Linked DNA regions of Homo sapiens: region 1 is linked to region 2. Evidence: fine-mapped expression QTL. A gene starts in region 2. The other region holds a variant in brackets. All regions are shown on one strand. Distances are between the middles of the regions. Region 1 has its middle 110 kb from the start of NABP1. Region 2 holds the start of NABP1 (nucleic acid binding protein 1).

Region 1 (5,376 bases), 110 kb before region 2:
GTGGCCCTGGGGGTAGGGAGGAGAAAGGTGATTATGCAAGTACATGCCTCCCCCAGATTGATCAGGTAACATGCACCTGCTAATGGGGATAAATATTAGGAGATGAGGAAATGGATACAAGTAAATGCTTTCTCCAAAAACAAAGAAACCAAACTAGTGACCATAGGCAGAACTTGCTTCTAATGTTTGCACTCTGATACTGAAAGGTAACTGGACCTATGCATAAAATGTGACACCAATCTGATCATCTAGGTAGCCTGAAGATAGTATGTATTTTGGGGAGACTATTCTATTTCTAGTGCCCTGGAGGATTTCCCAAATTGTTCAGCTAAATGTAGGTTTAATTACCTCTTTACCATCACCACTCCATTACTGCCTCTGAATGATGACTTTGTGCATTTTTCACTTAAGGGTAATGAACTGCTCTCTTAATATGGTTCCATCATTCAACTTTGTTCTAGGGAGTTTCTTTATAGACAATTTTTATTTTAATCAGAAGTGAATGGGACTATTGCCTTTAAAGTGGACCATCTGTGGGTTTACCAGGAAATTTATTAACTTTGATCTTTATTCAATTTAACTTTCTGCCAGAGCTTCCAGTAAAGTTCTTTCAAGCCTGCAGAAAGCAGAGCTCAGAGCTCAGAAAGTGGGCTCTGTGGGAGGGGGAGAGGGGAGGATAAGAGAAGGGAGTGTATGGATACAGACTGCAATCCCAGTTTCAGCTGAGGTGGCAGTGGGGAGCTGGGAACATTATTCTGGAAGATCCTGGAGCAAGTCCTCAACTTGACTCCAGTTCGAGACTCCTCTGGGCTAGCAAGGTAATATATATGTATTTTTTTAAGAGATGGGCTCTTGCTCTGTTGCCCAGGCTGGAGTGCAGTGGAGCCCTCACAGCCCACCGCAGCCTTGAATTCTTGGGCTCAATTGATCCTCCCGCTTCAGCCTCCTGAGAAGCTGGGACTACATGTGTGTACAACCATGCCCAGCTAATTTATTTTTATTTTTGTTTTTGTTTTTTTGTAGAGATGGGGGTCTCATTCTGTTGACCAGACTGGTCTTGAACTCTTGGCTTCAAGTGAACCTCCCACCTCAGCCTCCCAAAGTGCTGGGATTACAAGCGTGAGCTACCGTGCCTGGCCTAGCAAGGTAATTTTAAACAGACACTGCCTTACCAATGATACAGCCTCAAAAGCCCTGATGCCAGCCTGAGCTGAATGTGATGAGCGTGAGGACTTATCCAGGCACTACCCACCTCTGCAACAAAACAGGGAGACAGGTGGGGAGTATCCACAATGCTGTGGATGGATTGGGCAGCAGGCAGAAGCTTCTGGCTTGTAGCTCACGCAGACCACTGCACAAGCTCTGCTCTTACAGCTTCCAAATTACTTTTCTGGCCTTTGAAGTGGAGCGATTTAGGATGCCTGCAGATCCTCCCCTGTTTAACAAATGCTCCCTGCTCTCAGTCCAGGGACCCTCACTCTTCCTGTCCTCTAACTCAGGACAGATTCCTGTCTATTATAGGTAGACAGGAAATCTTTTTGGATATCCAGGAAGATGGATATCCAAACTTCCCCAAGATCCTAGTCTATTTCCTTCCTTCCTTCCTTCCTTCCCTTTCTTTTTTCTCTTTTCTTTTCTCTTTCTTTCTTCCTTTCTTCCCTTCTTTCTTTCTTTTCCTTCCTTCCTTCCTTCCTTTTTCTTTCTTTCTTTCTCTTTCTTTCTTTCTTTCTTTCTTTCTTTCTTTCTTTCTTTCTTTCTTTCTCTTTTTCTTTCTTTCTTTCTTTCCTTCCTTCCTTCCTTCCTTCCTTCCTTCCTTCCTTCCTTCCTTCCTTCCTTCCTTCCTTCCTTCTTTCTTTTCTTTTCTTTTTCTTTTCTTTCTTTTTCAACTTTATTGGGGTAAGTGATTTATAGTAAACGGCAGAGATTTAGTGTGTGGTTTCACAAGTTTTGACATATGTGCTTACCCAGGAAACCGCCACCTCAGTCAAGATAATGAACATTTCCTTCACCCCGAAAGTTTCATAGTTGCCCCCTTTGTAAGACCTCCTTCTTTTTGCCCCATCCCCAGTCTGCTTTCTGTGACTATAGATTACTCTGCGGTTTCTAGGATTTTATGAAAATGAAATCATCTTTTCTTGTCTGATTTCTTTCACCTAGCATAAATATTTTGAGATTCATGCATGTGGCTGCATGTATCAATAATTCATTCCTTTTTACTCCTGAGGATTAATCCACTGTATGGATCCATCACAGTTTGTTAATCCATTGAGGAATCATTCCTTCTGTTTTGTTTTATAAGATCACGAAGCGTTAGATGTGTAAGGGGCATTATAGGTCACTTAATCTAAGAAAATCATCAGTTATCTGTAGTTATCTACCTACAGATTAGGTAACTGAAGCCAGAACACTACTTAAGAATTTCCCTGGAAATTGTTTAAAATTGAGATTCATACCTATTCCTGCCGTTTGATTCTGATGGTGGAGTGAATCCTGGGATTCTGCAGTTTTAGCAACAGCCTCTGGTGATTCTAATCCAGATATATGGTCTACTATACTTAAAACACCGAATTATTTAAATATTGAGGTCGTAGAAGGTTAGGAGCAAAGGCTGGATTTAAATCCACAATTTTTGATTTCTAAGTTTAGGGCTCTTTCTACTACATTATGTCAACCCCAAATAACATCAGACACATGGAAGCCTGACGCTGTCTGCTAGCGTAAATCTCTTTGTTTTCTCATCAAAGAAATGCCACAGCTCGATTCCAGGCTACATTCTTGTGTTTCCAGAAGAGGGTACTGATAACAAATCCTTTCTTTAATGCACGTATTTCTTTCTCTTACTCTCTCTCCCCACCCCCTCTCTCCTCCCTTCTTTCTTCCTCTGCTTGTTTTTGTTTTGTTTTGTTTCGTTTTGGGTTTTTTGTGGGGTTTTTTTTCTGGTCATTAAAGTTGCAAATATGAAAAGCAACAAAGTGAGACCTGGGAAAATGAGTTTACTTCAATAAAAAGCCAAAGTCCCTGGAGAAATTTCTTGACATCATTA[C/T]ATTTTTAATACAAACTTGCCTGTAAGTGCTGTCACTTACTGGCTTCCAGTCACTAATTTTATGAGTCAGCACTTTCCCTCAGTGACTTCCTCAAAATTATAGGAATAGGAGGGGCTGGACAGAACATGCAGAAGTAAGAATGCTGAAAATTTAACCAGAGCTGAAGAAACGTTGACCTTTAGGAACAACAATGACCAAAAATGTCATCTAGTTATCTTACTCCCTATCTCTTTCCATTGGGTAGTTAGGGAGGAAGCCATAAGCCTAACTTGGTATATATATATATATATATTTTTTTTTTTTCCCTTAAGTTATTATAATTCCAGTGACCCTTGGGCTGCCTTCCTCCAAACTCTGAAAATTTGAACTCAGGCAGTGGGGCCTGAACCCTTACTTGATACCTGGTGTCTGAGAATGTTGTTTCTAAGCAAGGATATCAAGATCATGAAAAACCAAGCAGTAACATATCAAATGAAAGAAGAGACATGAGTCCAACTCAAGCTGCCAGAAAAATTTAATTCATCTTTGATAGTTTGGGCATTTTCCTAACAATATTTTTATGACAAATTGGGTAATTCAAATGTGCTGGCTACCTTTGAAGCCCTAGAATGAAAGTGAGCTTTTGCCTCATGAGATAAAATAAGACAAGGCTTTGAGAATTCAGTCGCCCCACCCTGGGTAGAATTGTGAGAAGGCACACTGTGTCCCTAGGACCCTCAGACTCACTTCTTTGAAACCTTTTCTTTCCCCACTCTTACCAGGTATGGGGGCTCCATTGCTCTCCTCATTGGATCCTTAGTGTGAGTGACACAGAGTCTTATTATCCTATGCTGTCTACGTTTGCATTTGAACATTAATTGTGGCAATGACAAGCTTTGTCTTTGAGTCACAAGGCTTGGAAATAAGACAGAAGATTGGTAATTAGAAGTTCTAATCTGTGTTCATCTACTTATCACTTGTGGGCCCTTAGGCGAGTCATTTAACCTTTATGAGTCTATTTTCTCATGTGTCAAATAGTAACGATGATAGTAATATGCACATTTGTGAGTGGCTATAGGGACTAGAGATTAGGTATATAAAGTACCTGGTCCATAAATGGTAGTTAAAGGCATGTCGGCCATGCGGGTGTCAGGCATGCAGATGATGGAAAATTTGGGACTTCTCCTATTGACAAGAGGACTTTTCTAGTACAACTGAAACTGGCTTATTAGAATGGAGAGTGGTAGCTGCCTACTCAATTAGGGTGGGCCTATGTGTTTTGCCCTAATGCCTCATGTCTACCTAATTTCTCTTTGTGTCCATTGTAATCATGGAGCCCGAATCTTTGGATCATTTATGAGAGTCATAAATCTAACTGGGTGAAAGTGGAATTGAGAAGAGACTCCAATGTATTTGTGAGACCAGGTACTTAAGGGTTGCTACATTTGAAACACAATTATAGAATACATACATATACAGAATGACAAATGATTTCCACAAGTTTGACAAGGAAACTAATCTTATTACTTTATGGTCACACTTCTGTGACAATGCAACTTAATTTTGCCAAAATGTATTTCTATGTTTATGCACATATACATGCTCCTCAATGGCCTATTTCTATACTCACCCAAATTGTATATAATCACAAAAAAACTGTCTTTTTTACAATACAGTTTATTTATTGCACTTCTTAAAGGCAGAAACATTCATTGTGATTTCTGTTCTCAGGTAATGAGAAGCTGTGATAGATATTAACAGAAGAAACTTTGAGTGGAAAGTTCTCCAGATTTTCTCACTGCCTCTCTCCAAATTTGATATGCTGTAATATTTTTAGTCTTATTATTATAGTGTCAGGGTGGAGATGAATCATATTGAGAGGAAGAGGTAAAGTGTTAGACTCTAAAAGTGTGTAAACAGCCATCAAGGGAAATTCTGAAGCATCCTAGTGCTTGGGGAAGGTTTAAGGAGTTTATTCTTGGCACCGTTGCCTATAATCCATAATTAGCAACCCATTGATATGGTATTTGTTAAATTCCTACATTGTAGGTTAAGACTATTGAAATTGCAGTACACCAGTGGGAAAACAGACTACAATATTCACACTGGCATAGATTTCAGTCTCTGGGAGTAGGTAGTTTGCCTGAAGCCAGATAGTTCTTAGGAATCAATAACCTCATTAGCCCCAGGAGACTGGATCTCTATACTTTGTAGAGTGGTACAGTTGCTGGAACATCTGCCAATGGGCACCTGCCTTAGTGGAAAGAGAATTATTTTTTTGTAGGCATTAAAGCTCAGAATAATTCAAAAACATTCCTCTAGGTACTGAACAACTATTTATCAATCTTACAGA
Region 2 (5,350 bases):
GTAAATCAGACCATGTCTGGTGGCTCATGCCTGTAATCCCAGCACTTTGGGTGACTGAGACGGGAGGATCGCATGAGCTCAGGAGTTTGAGACCAGCCTGAGCAACACAGTGTGATTCCATCTCTACACAAAATAAAACAATTAGCTAAGGCGTGGTGGTGCACACCTGTAGTCCCAGCTACTTGGGAGGCTGAACCTGGAGGATCACTTTAGCAGAGGAGTTCCAGATTACAGTGAGCTATGGTGCAGCCACTGCATCCAGCCCGGGTGGGTGACAGAGTGAGACCTTGTCTCCAATACAAAAACAAAACCCAAAATAGTGTAAAGTGCTTATAAGTGTAAAATGCCTGGCCCATAGCAAGTGCTCAGTGTATTTGCATTTATCACTATAGGGATGATTTGTGTGGCTGTTGCTGCAATCATTACTAAACATTACTTCTGAGTCTTTTGGTTAAATTGTTTTAGGGAAATTAAGAAAATACTATTTGTTTGAGTTTTTTTTTTTTGTTTTTTTAGTTGCCAATTATGTTACAAAGTGGATTATACCTGTAAGGTGAGTGAGCACACTGTGGTTCTTGTTAATTTTTTAAATTGTTAAGTTTCACTATACAAGATATTTAAAATCAAACAGTACTTGGTACAAACAACTGTTTCATTGATGTTGTAATAGTTTTAAATAGATGGATAGTGAAAACAAAGTGAAAATAATTTTGGTAATTCCAGAAACCAAAACCTGGGAGTGAGCATGGGTACTGAGTGCTGGGTAAAATTTACAACAAAACCTTTATCAATGAGGACCCAGATAACAGAACCTTCTATGTCCAGGATTCTAATGGATGCCCTTCTGTATTACAGTGGATCTCACTAAGCATCTTTACACTAAAACATGGTGTTGAGGTTCTGGATGTAAAGTGGAAGAGTCCATCATCTCAGAGTAAGCTTATGTTTAGGCTGTGAAAAATGAAGGCTTGAAGAACAACAGCCTTAGAGAAAAGAAGACCATGAAGTAATCTTGTGTATGTATTAAAGAATCAGCAATATAATCATTATGACCTAAATGAGTAGACTGAGTGGCAGATCTATTTCACTGAATGGTAATATAAGAAAAGATATCTGCCTAGCAATAATTGTCTCCTTGACATCTCCTTTTTCTTTTTATTAACCACATCTTTGGGAGTGATTTAGAGGTAGCTGAAACCAACTAGCCTGGGCTGAACAGTTTCTGTATTGCCCAGACCATCTTGTTTCTCAAGGCTGCCTTTCGTTTTGGTTAATGAGAAAGCATATGGTTGCCATTTCCTTTCTGAGAACTGCTGAGTTAGTAGGGAAGGAAGTAGATGTTCAGCTGAGTTCTGTCCTGTGGGGGAAGGGAAGGGCTGAGCCACAGCTTGGAGTACCAGCTTCTGCTTTTGTGGGGCTTGATTTTCTGTGTCTGATTTCTTTTTATAAAATGTTCATATAATTAGCCTGAACAGCCCAACCTAATCCCTTTTCTGGGGGCAAATGATTGAGAGTTGAGTGGCAAACTTTCTTTGCCCAAACTCTTGGCCGTAACTCTTAACATTCTTAATTGGTTTCCTGTCTATTCTTAATCTTTTGAAGATCTTGTCAAACCTTAAAAAAAAAAAAAAAGAGCTCTGCCTTAAATATTGCTTCTGTGAGAATATTTTGCCTGTTTAAGAAAATACAGCTTTGAGTACAATCCAATTGAAGTGTCAAGTCCTGCCAGATAACCATGGTAGAATTAGAGCTTCTGAGCTGGATTGGGATTGAGGTTGGACGCTGGCTCTGCCATTAACTGGCATGTTTCATCATTTGTTTTATTTGATGTTGAAATTATGCTTATAATTTTATTTTACACCACTTTCCAGTATGACATCAGTGTCTTTGGCACCTTGGGCTTTATTAGTTCATGAAATGGAAGCTTCTGTTTCCTTAAAAATGCCTTGACTCTCTTGCTAATGTTGTGATAATGTTTCCAACTCTTTCTAGGGCTATAATATCTATGCTGCTTGTTTGCAAATACTTGGGAAGTGGTGGTTGATCTAAAGATACTCAGAAAGAATGGGGAGAAAATTAAGGCTTCTGACACTTTTCCCAACATTTCTGTTATCATCACCAAGAATTAACTAGATGATTCTTTAATGCCCCACTACTTTATTCTGCTATTTTATTTCTTCAGTCTGTTTTTGACTCTTATAATGACACCACTGGAAGTTAAGTCTAAACATTACCTTTAGGCTGGAGAGCTCTGGGGTCAAGATTGACTAGATTTAAAACCCAGCTCAGCCATTCTCTAGCTATCTGGTCTCTGGTGAGTTCCATCGCCTGTAAAACGGGGATTAAAAAGGGGAAAATACTGAGTATGTACTATTTGCTAGGCACTAGTTGGACAATTTATGATCCATTTAATCAATCTTCTGCTAGGCAGGGATCCCCATTTTATTATGGTTAAAAAGCTGTAATAAAAGCCAATTGACCTAAAGCTCTCACAAGTAAATAGCTGGAGCCCAGGTTTGTCTCTAAAGCACATGCTCTTTTCACTACGCGACATAAAAAAAACTTTATTAATCTTTTTTTCCAGATTATGTTTCAAGGGTTCCCACTGCTGTTGAATAATTAATTCCTTTTAGATGTACAAAAGCAAGTGCAAAGTAAAAGAAGAAAAGCTAAATGGGGAAGGTGTGTAATATGAGAGGCAGGGGGTAAGGAAAAATGAGAAGTCTGCAAAGGAATTTACGTCCTATCTGCTTAGCATTACACAGTGGAAGCCCACGTCAGACATTTGTGTTGCAGTCCTGCCTGCTCAGGGGTTGCTGGGTGACCTTCTGCAAATTACCTCATCTTTCTGGGTTTCAATTTAAGTATGCCTGAAATGAGGCGGTTGAATTGATCTCCAAATTCCCTTCTGGTGCTAAACTTCCAGCCTTGTAGCCACTGACGCCTTCACCATCCCAGCCTGTTTTCCCTTGGTACCGGACCAGCTGCCCTTGCCCGAACCCTGTTCTTCCTCGACTGCGAACTTTCTAACGTACTCACAGGTTCTAAACTCTACCGTTCCTCGTGACCGAGGGACTAAAGGGCCCGGGCAGGGGCTCAACTCTGAGAGAAAAAAAGGCAAGAAAACTCCAAAGTTGGACAGCAAGCGTCAAAAGACTGCACAGCAGGAAGGCGAAACCGAACAGAACTGCTGCTGCGCGGCGACAGCTGAAGTGGGTGGAGAACGGGAGGGCGGGGGAGGCGGGGCCGAGAGCGATTGGAAGGACGAGGGGGCGGAGCCCGCGCTGACAGCCCCCGGGGAGGAGCGAGGGAAGCTCTGCGGGCTGCGGCGGCCGGGTCCCGCCCCTTTGCTTCCCCTCCCCAGCACCAGGCGGGCGTGGCAGCAGGCGTGCCGACGCAGCGTGACTTCACAAGGGGAGGGGCGGGCCGAGGGTCCTGCCGGCGCGCGGGCGTGTTCATCAGTCGCTGTTTGGGACGCTGGGTGTGCGGTGTTCTGTCTCCGCTCCCGTTTCGCTGTCACAGCCCGTTCCTTCCCGGAGCCCGGGACAGGCTGGGCGCGCGCCCGTGTGAGTGAGCGGGACTCAGGGCAGAAGTGTCCCCTCACTGCGTTTTTTTTTCCTTTTATCCAAAGAACGGGGCAGTTAGTACGCTTGCCTTCCTGTCGCCCGGTTGGGAGCGGGGTTGGTGTGCGGAGTGGTTCGCCTTTTTTTCTTTAGAACTTGTGAGCCTTTTTTTTTTTTTTTTTTTTTTTTCTTTTTTTAGGCTCAGTGCTGTCCGGGCTGGTTTGCCCGGTCCCTGACTAACGGCTTTCTGCCCCTTCTCTCGCCACCCCTGCCCAAGGTCGCCCCTCTGCCTTCGCCCCTGTCCCGGGAGGGTGGGAAGCTTTGACCCCGCCCTGCCCACTCGCGTCTCCGCAGCCGTAGCCGCGCCTGTCCCAATATGAATAGGGTCAACGACCCACTTATTTTTATAAGAGATATTAAGCCCGGACTGAAAAACTTAAATGTCGTCTTTATTGTCCTGGAGATAGGTAAGTGGGGTTTGCAGCCTACTCCACCGCCCGCTGTGCCTCCCGGGGCGGGAGACAGGGGCGCCGGCCGCTGCGCGCCCGGGGCTCCCCTCCTCCTCCCTCCCCTCCCCCACCCACGTGGCTCTAGTGGCCTCCGCCCGAGATCGGATCCTACCTGAGGCGGGAGCCCTGGGCTTGGTCACTTCCCACCTTCCAGATGTATTAAAATACCGGAGGAGGAGTTAGCCTTTCTGGATGTCCTCATTATCTAACAACCCCTCCCTTTGATTTTTAAATCCTCACAGGACGCGTGACCAAAACCAAAGACGGCCATGAAGTGAGATCGTGCAAAGTAGCAGATAAAACGGGCAGCATCACTATTTCCGTGTGGGATGAGATCGGAGGTCTTATACAGCCAGGGGATATTATTCGGTTGACCAGAGGGTAGGTGTGCAAAAAAGTCGGGGGACCTAACAGTCTGCAGAATCGGGATTGGCCGGCTCCTGGGATCTTGGCAAGCCCTGAAGTCCCCCGCCTTTTCTGTGGGCCACTCTTGAGGAGTTTTGAACTCCTTTGGTGTTAACTTTGGGTGGTGGGCAGCGCTGGGATGTAACAGACCTTTGCAGTGAAAGGCAGTCGGTTTCAGCTGGGAAATCCGCGCCTCTACCCCGGTTTACAGGTTAAGTAGATTTTTAATTATTATTATTTTTTGGGACCGAGTCTCGCTCTGTCGCCAAGCTGGAGTGCAGTGGCGTGATCTCTCCTCACTGCAGCCTCCGCCTCGCGGGTTCAAGAGATTCTCGTGCCTCAGCCTCCCAAGTAGCTGGGACTACAGGCGTGTGCCACCACGCCCAGCTAAGTTTTGTATTTTTAGCAGAGACGGGGTTTCAGAGTGTTGCCCAGGCTGGTCTCCAACTCCTGACCTCAAGTGATCCGCGCGCCCCAACCTCCCAAAGTGCTGGGATTACAGGCGTGAGCCACCACGCCCGGCATAGATTTTTAGTTCTATTCTGAGTCAGTGAGTCTTTTTAGGAGACTGGTATAGTCCATATTTTTTCTTTTTTATAAGTTGTTTTCTCTAGTGTAGTTGCCACTCAGTTGTTTCCCACCCCTTCTCCATTTTTAATGACTTGAAATCCTGGCCAGTATTTTACATATGTTATTTAGAAATGTGGACATAAATGAAAATTATAGGTAAAGGATTTAGCATATTCTGTGATATGTCAAATTTGTACTTGGAAAAAGAGGGAAACTTTACAGTATCTGGAAGGCTCATTCTCCAAAATGATTTCTTGTGTCTTCTGCTGTAAGGTGGATGTTGCGCAAAAACCAAAGGGATAC

What was found. PIP is the estimated chance that this variant, and not a neighbour inherited with it, causes the effect. A credible set is the group of variants that fine-mapping cannot tell apart.
Region 1: its variant is the best candidate, but not a certain one, in a credible set for the expression of NABP1 in whole blood (TOPMed, PIP 0.68).

The regions. Positions count from the first base shown.
Region 1 is chr2:191,568,498-191,573,873 of GRCh38, forward strand. No RefSeq gene overlaps it. Among named protein-coding and RNA genes, the nearest start is that of NABP1, 110 kb to the right of the region's middle. The variant C/T (reference allele first, on the strand shown) is at 3,044.
Region 2 is chr2:191,674,676-191,680,025 of GRCh38, forward strand. It overlaps NABP1 (nucleic acid binding protein 1), which reads left to right and starts at 3,461. Exons shown (of 6, transcript NM_001031716.5): 1 at 3,461-4,030; 2 at 4,315-4,453. The coding sequence starts at 3,940. RefSeq lists silencers at 1,068-1,362, 3,153-3,502, 4,103-4,162 and enhancers at 1,310-1,419, 3,013-3,092, 3,302-3,804, 4,632-5,350.